Homo sapiens: one gene and its partners. The protein of the gene in region 3 interacts with the protein of the main gene of each other region in a pairwise test. Each region holds a gene or a part of one and is shown on either strand. Other genes may lie near its edges.

Region 1 (3,500 bases), on a different chromosome or scaffold from region 3:
CTCTACTGTTTAATATTTTACTTTAAGAATGGAGATTTTAGTTGTATGGTAATATGTATTATACTTGATGTTCTGGGAGTATCTGTATGACTCATTGTCAAAATTACTCTTATAAATATTTTATTACCATGAAGCCTTAAGTCCTTCCAGAGCAATAAATGATAGTTGGTAAGGGGGAAACTGTTTCAATAAAACATCCTACTTCACCCCACCCTCAGAAAATAAAAACTCTTGATTCTCCAAAGACTAATCAATGATAACTGTTGATACTGTTCTGCAAACTAATTTTGCTTTACTTGATTTTCTAAAATCTATGTGTTCCTTATTTATAAACAAGTACAGATGGGCCATCACCATAGGTGAACTCCATATCGACAAAGACAGAACTAGCATTACGAAATCCTAGAAAGTTGGTGTGCTGAGAGCTAATCACAAAAGAGCAAGCGAATGAACTTAAATGCTAGTTGCTCCAGAGCAACTATCATTAAATAAAAGGTATCTTTGGCTGTACTACCAGCTTGATCCTTCCCTCCCCCTTCTCCTTGCTACTGCGGGATTGGCACCTGGCCAGCACAAGCGACATGATACCCTAGTGCCATCTACAGGCTATTATCGATATTCAAATTTTGTGGCAACAGACAAGCACCAGTGAAATAAATTAGACAGCGCTGCATTTAAATCTTTATTAACAAGGAATTATTAGACCTAAGAAAAACTAATTCTGGATTTGGTTGAAATATGAGTTTCTCAGCCTCTTAATCCCTCTTCATATGGCATATTTCACAGTTTAAAATGAGTTATGACAGATCACTTATGCATTACTAAGATGAGAGAATATTTACAATGGATTCATTCTTTTCTTTTTAAATCAGTTATATTAGGCAGCAAGCATTCTTTTTTTTTTTTTTTTTGAAAGAGTATTTGGCCACTGCGGACACTAAAAATCTTTCTATTAAGTACCGAATTTAATATATTACAATAAAATAATTTGAAATCAAAGAGAAGACTTCCTATATGGCTTAGTTGCAATCTATCAACGATCATGTGCTTCACAGCTGATGTACATTTAATATTCTACTATCCTGTTTAGAGACTAAAAAAAAAATTAACCCCTTTAGCAACCATAGCTGCAACATAATTGCAGTCACACCTTCAAAAGTCATTGAAAACTTGAGATTTGAAGGTGACTTTTTAGATCAAAAGGTAAGGTGAAAGTCTTGAAGCAGTCAATTTGGAAACCCCCAGGAGCAGAATTTGGCATATCAGGACAGGTTTTTTCTTCTTCAGCAAACATTATCTTGGGACATTTTGGAATAATTTTCTCTTTTCATCTTTTGCCATTTGAAGGAAACTGAAAGGAGAAAATATTCTCAGAACTCAGAAATTTCAAAGCTGTTCTAAAAATTCTTGACTGAGCCCCAGAGGAATAGAAAAGGGGTCAAGTTTTTTTTTACCTCTTTCTAACTAAGCTAAAGTTAGACCAAAACAATAGACATACTGGCACGTTAATACTGGTTGACTGGGCACTTGTATGCAGTACTTATAGACCAGTAAAAGTGCTCGTTTACCTGTCTGGTGTGTAAGGGGCCCTTTGTCTTGAAGCCTCCTTGGGAACTGCACTCTGAGGCACTGAAGTGATCTGAACTAGTGGAAGAGCGTTTAGAAAGGGTGTCACAACCCCCAACAAAGGTGTTGTCCAAAGGGAGTTCCTGAATCACGTGGTGCTTTTTCACGGAAACTGGAGTGTCTGGTTTGAGATGAAAAGCAGGCTGTGGAGAAGCAGATTTGTAGTGCTTGGCCAGGTCAGGACTGTTAGGCTTGAATGTTGTTGGAGGTGCCGGGCCCCAGTCAAATCTTCCTATACTTTGCTCCTCCAGTTCAGCCGGCAGGCTTATTGTCCCATTGATAGGTTCATGAACTGCATCATCGGGTTTGGACTCTTCGATAGTAACAAAGTTCAAAAGAGAGCTTTTGGGAGACTTCCTTTTCTTTCTTTTCTTTTTCTTGTTTTGCTTGTTCTCCTGGTTTGGGGACATCCATTCGGCACCTTGCTTGCTCCTCTGAGCTGCTTTGAACCTTGATGCATGGCGACAGCGCACCAGAACGGTGACGAAGATCACAACAATGACCACCATGGCACCGGCGATGATGGCAATCATGATGGTTAGATAGTCCTCATTTTGATAGGGTTGGCTACTATCCCCTATGTTCCTGTCCAACGGGGTCTCCATAGTCCTGCGGATCAAGTCATAGATATAGGAGGCATTTCCAGCAGTGTCGTTAACATAAAGGAATACAAGCACAAGCGTGTGCAAAGACTTAGGGTACCCCAGGTCACTTATGTTGACCACCAAACGATGCAATCCCACATCAGTAGGTGCTGGTTTTTCTTCCAGAGTAATGTTACCTGTTACTGGATCAATCCGGAATAAGCCTTTATTGTTTCCACTCACTATAGTATACTTTAGTTCAGCGTTCATTCCAGTGTCAACATCCACTGCAAAAACTTCTGCTACCACGGAGCCAGGAATGGCTGAGAGGGGCACCAACTTAAAGGAAGTATTAGACGGTGGAGAAATGACAACTGGGCTGTTGTCATTGACATCCATGACGTTGATAGTTACTTTTGCAGTAGAGGAACGAGGTGGTTGTCCTCCATCAGTGGCTTTGACATCAAAAGTGTAGGAACTCTGCTGCTCTCTATCAAATGAGACATTTGACTTTATGACTCCAGAATAGGGATCCAACACAAAATTATCATTGTCATTTAGAATGGAAAGAGTCACAGCTTTATTCTCTCCAGCATCTGCATCTGTCACTGTGATTACCCCCACAGTACTATACTTTGGCAGATTCTCAGACACAAAAAATTGAAAATGATTATGAGTAAACTTGGGGCTATTGTCATTCTCATCCAGAACAGTAACAATCACAGCCGCTTGGCTTTGGAGGGGAGGGGTCCCATTGTCCCTGGCAGTTACTGTAAAAATGAATCGTTCTTGTTCTTCTCTGTCAAATACTCTGGAGGCTGTCAAAACTCCTGTTTTTCGGTCCAGATCAAAGAAGGAGGCATTCGGTCCAAGCTGATAAACAATGTCTGCATTTTTCCCACTGTCTTCATCTGTGGCACTAATAGTTGTTAAGTATAACCCACGTCGGTTGTTTTCAGAAACTGACAGCTCAATTACAGGCTGGTTGAAAATTGGTGGGTTGTCATTTTCATCCTCAAGCTTAACCCTTACCAGGGCAGTCTGATTTAAACTGGGCTTCCCAGAATCAGAGGCAACAATTTTAAAGCTGAATTCTTTGGTGCCCTCATAGTCCAACAAAGAAGAGGTCTCTAACAAATATTGGTTGTCATATACCGCCTTCAAATGAAATGGGACCTCTCTTTCAATAAAACAGATCACTTTGCCATTCACATCTGTGTCCTTATCTGAAACTGTAATTAGGGCAATCTTTGTATTGACAGGATCTTTCTCAGATAAATACACGGTGCC
Region 2 (3,500 bases), on a different chromosome or scaffold from region 3:
TTATGATAAGTACAGACTTTGCAGAGTATCTGGTATAATACAGGCACCTAATAATGTTATTACCAAGTGCCATTTGAATGAATGACTACTACTAATTGCTACAATTGTTACCACTATAATTGGCTAAGATAAAAAATAATCGAGAATAATAGTCTCAAGTATATTATAGTTAAGAGCAGGGAGAGGCATGAGCAATCTCTTGTTATTATTGCTATTAAAGAAGCCATTTGTTCTGTTCAGGGCTTTAAAAAAGTCCAATGGGAATAAGGCAGTGAGAGAGGAGATTCATGGAAATCTTTGCCTGCAAGGACAGAGAATACTCATGTGGTACTTTTTGGCTGGCAGTAGTGACCTCCTAGCTGGTGAAATAGAGAAGGCGGAGATGTTGAATATGGAGGGGAGGGTTATGGAAGGCACTCAATGATGTGCAGGCTAGGCTGATGCTTCCTCATTCGATGAATAAAGATAGCATTCTCAGCTAAATTCAGCTCCTTCAGTGTCCTCTCTGAGGCTTGGATAGGAGTTAAAAGCCCGACCTGCTGGATCTTCATCTGATCTCTTTCCTCAGACCCCCGGCAGTGGACAGAAACCCATGTTCGGGACTGGGTGATGTGGGCTGTGAATGAATTCAGCCTGAAAGGTGTAGACTTCCAGAAGTTCTGTATGAATGGAGCAGCCCTCTGCGCCCTGGGTAAAGACTGCTTTCTCGAGCTGGCCCCAGACTTTGTTGGGGACATCTTATGGGAACATCTAGAGATCCTGCAGAAAGGTAAATATGTGGAAACAGAGAGAGGTGGAGGTTATGTGGGGTTGCTGTGAGAGTAGGTAGGGGGCTCACCCAATGGTGGGACGTCAATGCCTTTATCTGTGGGTGTCCTACTGTAGGACGTATGTGGGAATGTGCCTAGTACACTGCTCAGCATACAGCAGGTACTCTTAGATGAGTGTAATTTCTTTTTCTTCTACATATTGGGGGTTCAGATATTAATCTTCAGCAAGATTGTACCACTGAAGCTTCTTGGATTGCAACATTCTAATCCAGGTCCTTATCTCAAACCCATGCCCTGGTTGAACAAGCAGTGCCCACAGCCAACCCAAGAATAGTTTTTGTTTTTGTTTTTGTTTTTGTTTTCTGCAATCTTAATACACACTGCCTTGATGCATGCCCCATAATACCTCATCACATCCCGGGAAAGCTTAGCGTCTGAGACCGTATTAATAAGACAGATTTCTCTGCCCACTAACTGAATTGGAATTGCAGTAGTGCATCATACCTTTTACATCTGGAGCAGGAACTGGGGTTATATCAGGACGCTATGTTGCAACCTTATAATGACATGGCCTCCCCTAACAGCCTCTTCCAACCTTTTTGGACCAAGTGACTCATGTACCACAGTCCTGGCTGAGTATAGAAACAGCAGCAGGCGGCAAACTTGGGTGTTTTTGTGCTTATTTTTTTGAATTTTTTCTTAAAATAAATTGCAGTTACCAGCAGTCAGCAGTGCCCTTCAGCTGACTGTAAGCCTAGAAGCCCATTGCCCTCTCTAACCCAGGCCCATCCTTTCCCTGTGGTCATCAGCTCTAACCCTTGGCACAGACGCTGGGGGAGGGGAGCAAAACTCAGGATTAGCACTTTTACCCCGCATTATACCTTCCTTTGGTTAAGAATATATTCCATTCTGCAGTGCTCAAGAGAGACCCAAACTAGATTTCTCTGTGCTCAAAAATGTTATCTTTATTCCTTCTTTTCACTTTCTGTTGAAAAATAAGACATAAAGGAATACAGGAAAGAACTAGGTGAGTCTTTCTGTGGCTGCTTTTACCGAGGATGGCAGGCAGTTGCAAAGCACCGGCATGTTCTCCATGCACAGACACCCACTCATAGGTGTTGACATGAGCGACCTGTTTATAGAGGGAAACGATACGGCAGGCTCCTAACAGATCTGATTTGACTGTTGACTTCTAAACACAATAGCAGATTCAATCAGACTGTGTAACCCAGTATATTCTACTAAGAGGCTGTTTTCCTCCATTTATCAAAATGGAGCTGCTAGGTGTTTTGGGCTATCTAAGCCCATCTCTGATTGTAGTTACAATTAATATCTCTATCATGTCTCCCTGTTTCCAAAGTGCTTTCAAATACATTTTCTCTTTGGATTATCAAAATAACTGTGAGATAGTAAGGACAAGTCCTATTATTGTCCTTGTCTGTAAAATGAAGCTCAGGGTAGGCGATTTCTTCAGTATCACTCATCTCCTTTTCTTCATTTTATTTCAACTTTCAGTATATTTTTATTTTATTTTATTTTATTTATTTTTTGAGACAGAGTCTTGCTCTGTCACCCAGGCTGGAGTGCAGTCGCGCGATGTCGGCTCACTGCAACCTTCGCCTCCTAGGTTCAAGCGATTCTCCTGCCTCACCCTCCTGAGTAGCTGGGACTACAGGCGCATGCCACCATGCCTAGCTAATTTTTGTATTTTTAGTAGAGTCAGGGCTTCACCGTGTTGGCCAGGATGGTCTTGATCCCTTGACCTCGTGATCTGCCCACCTTGGCCTCCCAAAACACTGGGATTACAGGCGTGAGCCACCGCGCCTGCCCTCAATATATTTTTATTTAACTTAAAATTTAACATCCCATCCTGTGCTTTTTGTATAATAATGTGGATTCACAGGGGCCTTCTGGCCGCTAAGACTGGTTTGGCCTCACTTAGGGTAAAGGAATAATGTAAGAAAATTTAAGAGAATTAGGATATAAGTCAGTATGTTTGAGAGCAAAAGTCATATCTTCCCACCCAATATTCTGTTGAGAGAGGCAGAAAGAATTCTCCCTCTTCAGGTTCAGTTACTTGAAGAGATGAGCATGATGTTTGTGCTGAGGCTACAGCTTTTGTTCTGTAATTAAAGCAACACAGCAGCAAAAGAACATAGCTGTTTGGGGTGGGGTGGAAGGTGAAAGGTACGGGGATGTTTCAATCTGATAAACTGCTAAAGCAAAGTTTAATCATTTTATCTCAACTGGGAACTGTTTTTCTGTGCAGGCATAAACTTGTTTTCCCATCAGACTTTGCTCCTAACAAGCTATCAAATACCTGAGGAAAAACCCAAACCCATACTCTATGTCAGATTCTTATGGTGAAATATAATCAGACTACTCCATACAAGAATCGGAGCCATGGCATTTGTTCCAGGGTAATTAGAGGATCCCAGGCTTACTGCAGGGTCGTTCAGAGCTTTCTGTCCGCAGGTGCACTTCGTCTCCCTTCCTCTCCTTTTCCTAGGGGAGTTGGCATCTGGGCAGGAGCTTGACTGGGTTGCTCTTCTCTCCCTTGACACAAGCGCAGTCGCATTTCACCAAATGGAGTCACCTTACCAGTGTCCTGCTTCTTGTCTGGGCCTGAACTTGAAACCTGAGGGCAATGGGAAAAATACAAAACAAAAACCAGACATCTGTTAGAGGAAATGGAGAACGTAAAATCTATGGCCTAAAGACTGCAATATA
Region 3 (3,500 bases):
TTTGCAGTGGCTGGTATGGGTTGTTCCTTTCCATGTTTAGTGCTTCCTTCAGGAGCTCTTTTAGGGCAGGCCTGGTGGTGACAGATTCTCTCAGCATTTGTTTGTCTGTAAAGTATTTTATTTCTCCTTCACTTATGAAGCTTAGTTTGGCTGGATATGAAATTCTGGGTTGAAAATTCTTTTCTTTAGGAATGTTGAATATTGGCCCCCACTCTCTTCTGGCTTGTAGAGTTTCTGCCCAGAGATCCCCTCTTAGTCTGATGGGCTTCCCTTTGTGGTTAACCCGACCTTTCTCTCTGGCTGCCCTTAACATTTTTTCCTTCATTTCAACTTTGGTGAATCTGACAATTATGTGTCTTGGAGTTGCTCTTCTCGAGGAGTATCTTTGTGGCGTTCTCTATATTTCCTGAATCTGAAAGTTGGCCTGCCTTGCTAGATTGGGGAAGTTCTCCTGGATAATATCCTGCAGAGTGTTTTCCAACTTGGTTCCATTCTCCCCATCACTTTCAGGTACACCAATCAGACGTAGATTTGGTCTTTTCACATAGTCGCATATTTCTTGGAGGCTTTGCTCATTTCTTTTTATTCTTTTTTCTCTAAACTTCCCTTCTCGCTTCATTTCATTCATTTCATCTTCCATCACTGATACCCTTTCTTCCAGTTCATCTCATCGGCTCCTGAGGGTTCTGCATTCTTCACGTAGTTCTCGAGCCTTGGCTTTCAGCTCCATCAGCTCCTTTAAGCACTTCTCTGTATTGGTTATTCTAGTTATACATTCGTCTAAATTTTTTTCAAAGTTTTCAACTTCTTTGCCTTTGGTTTAAGTTTCCTCCTGTAGCTCAGAGTAGTTTGATCATCTGAAACCTTCTTCTCTCAACTCGTCAAAGCCATTCTCCATCCAGCTTTGTTCCGTTGCTGGTGAGGAGCTGCGTTCCTTTGGAGGAGGAGAGGCACTCTGCTTTTTAGAGTTTCCAGTTTTTCTGCTTTGTTTTTTCCCCATCTTTGTGGTTTTATCTACTTTTGGTCTTTGATGGTGGTGATATACAGATGGGTTTTTGGTGTGGATGTCCTTTCTGTTTGTTAGTTTTCCTTCTAACAGACAGGACCCTCAGCTGCAGGTCTGTTGTAGTTTGCTAGAGGTCCACTCCAGACCCTGTTTGCCTGGGTCCCAGCAGCGGTGGCTGCAGAACAGCGGCTTTTCGTGAACCGCAAGTCCTGTTCTCTGATCGTTCCTCTGGAAGTTTTGTCTCAGAGGAGTACCCGGCGGTGTGAGGTGTCAGTTTGCCCCTACTGGGTGGTGCCTCCTAGTTAGGCTGCTTGGGGGTCAGGGGTCAGGGACCCACTTGAGGAGGCAGTCTGCCCGTTCTCAGATCTCCAGCTGCATGCTGGGAGAACCACTGCTCTCTTCAAAGCTGTCAGACAGGGACATTTAAGTCTGCAGAGGTTACTGCTGTCTTTTTGTCTGTGCCTGCCCCCAGAGGTGGAGCCTACAGAGGCAGGCAGGCCTCCTTGAGCTGTGGTGGGCTCCATCCAGTTCGAGCTTCCCAGCTGCTTTGTTTACCTAAGCAAGCCTGGGCAATGGCAGGTGCCCCTCCCCCAGCCTCGCTGCCGCCTTGCAGTTTGATCTCAGACTGCTGTGCTTGCAGTCAGCGAGACTCCGTGGGCGTAGGACCCTCCGAGCCAGGTGCGGGATATAATCTCCTGGTCCGCCATTTTTTAAGCCTGTCGGTAAAGCGCAGTATTAGGGTGGGAGTGACCCAATTTTCCAGGTGCCGTCTGTCACTCCTTTCTTTGACTAGGAAAGGGAACTCCCTGACCCCTTGCGCTTCCCGAGTGAGGCAATGCCTCACCCTGCTTTGGCTCGCGCACGGTGCGCTGCACCCACTCTCCTGCACCCACTGTCTGGCACTCCCTAGTGAGATGAACCTGGTACCTCAGATGGAAATGCAAAATCACCCGTCTTCTGCGTCGCTCACTCTGGGAGCTGTAGACTGGAGCTGTTCCTATTTGGCCATCTTGCCTCCACCTCCCATTGTACATTTTTAAATAACTGAAAATGTATAATTAGATTGTAACACAAAGGATAAATGCTTGAGGTAGGTGCGCCATTCTCCATGATGTGATTATTATGCATTGCATGCCTGTATCAAAACATCTCATATTCCACATAAGTGTATATACCAACTATAATACTCAAAAAAAATTAAAAATGTTCAAAAAGTCTAGCACATACGATTACGTATACTACACAATACTTGATAAAGATAATAAATAACTATATACTTGTTTATTATTTACTTTTTACCATTATTATAGACTGTACTTCTTACACTTGTTTTTTTAAGTTACTATACAACAGCCTCAGGCAGGCCCTTCAGGAGACATTCCAGAAAAAGGTACTGTTATCAGAGAAGATGACATCTCTATGCATATCATTACCCTTGAAGACTTTTCAGTGAGACAAAACGTGGAGGTGAAAACAGTGATATTGATTATCCTGACCCTGTGTAGACCTAGGCTAACTTTCTGTTTCTTAGTTTTTAACAAAAAAGTTTAAAAAGCTTTTTCCTATTTTAATTTTTTAACTTATAAGGAAATGTAAAAAGGAAATACTTTTGTCCAGCTGTACAATGTATGTGTTTTAAGCTAAGTGTTATTACAAGAGTCAAAAAGCTTTAAAAATTTTTTAAGTTTATAAAGTCAGAAAATCACTGTAAGGTAAGGTTGATTTATTTCTGAAGGGAGAACACTTTTTTACAGTAAATTTAGTGTAGCCTAGGTATACTGTTAACGTCTTAGGCCTTCATGTTCATTTACCACTCACTAACTCACCCAAAACAATTTTCAGTCCTGCAAACTCCATTCATCATAAGTCCCCTGTATGGGTGTGTACCATTTTTTACCTTTTATATCTTATTTTTACTGTAGCTTTTCTATATTTAGATACGTAAATATTTACCATTGTTACAGTTTCCTACAGCATTCAGTACAGTAACATGATACATAGGTTTGTAGCATAGGAGCACAATAGGCTATTCCACATAACCTAAGTGTGTAGTAGTCTATACCATCTAGGTTTGTGAAAGTACACTGTATGCTCACACAGTGATGAAATTGCTGAATGATACATTTCTCAGAATGTATCTCCATTGTTAAGTATGTATTATTGTACTTACTGTTCAGCATCTCAAATCCAAAATCTGAAATGCTCCAATGAAGAAGCATTTGGAGCTTTGATTGAAATGTTGGCACTCCAAAAGCAAGGATTTGGGATTTTTTGATTTCAGATGTGCAACCTATTAATAATTATATTAAATGTAAGTATGTTGAATGTTGTAACATTCAGGGATTGGCAGAATGGGTTTACAAAAAAAAAAAAATTAGAATCCAGCTTTATGCTGTCTACAAGAGATAGACTTTAGATTCACAGACACAAATAGGTTAAAGTAACAGGATGGAAAAAGATATACCATGTAAGTAGTAGTCAAGAAAAATGGTAG

The links.
Region 1: the proteins of COP1 (region 3) and PCDH9 interact in a two-hybrid assay, tested with the Homo sapiens proteins (one large-scale study listed by BioGRID).
Region 2: the proteins of COP1 (region 3) and ETS1 interact in binary tests that used the Homo sapiens proteins (3 or more experiments, as listed by UniProt).

What each region holds. Positions count from the first base shown.
Region 1 is NC_000013.11:67,223,837-67,227,336, forward strand, and holds part of PCDH9 (protocadherin-9 isoform 1 precursor), read right to left. Parts: coding exon 1,569-3,500; coding exon of another isoform or gene 1,506-1,568; exon of another isoform or gene 1,352-1,505; coding exon of another isoform or gene 1,328-1,351; exon of another isoform or gene 1-1,327.
Region 2 is NC_000011.10:128,486,559-128,490,058, reverse strand, and holds part of ETS1 (protein C-ets-1), read left to right. Parts: intron 1-568; coding exon 569-769; intron 770-3,500. UniProt on the Homo sapiens protein: Transcription factor. Directly controls the expression of cytokine and chemokine genes in a wide variety of different cellular contexts. May control the differentiation, survival and proliferation of lymphoid cells.
Region 3 is NC_000001.11:175,990,787-175,994,286, reverse strand, and holds part of COP1 (E3 ubiquitin-protein ligase COP1), read left to right. Parts: intron 1-3,500. UniProt on the Homo sapiens protein: E3 ubiquitin-protein ligase that mediates ubiquitination and subsequent proteasomal degradation of target proteins.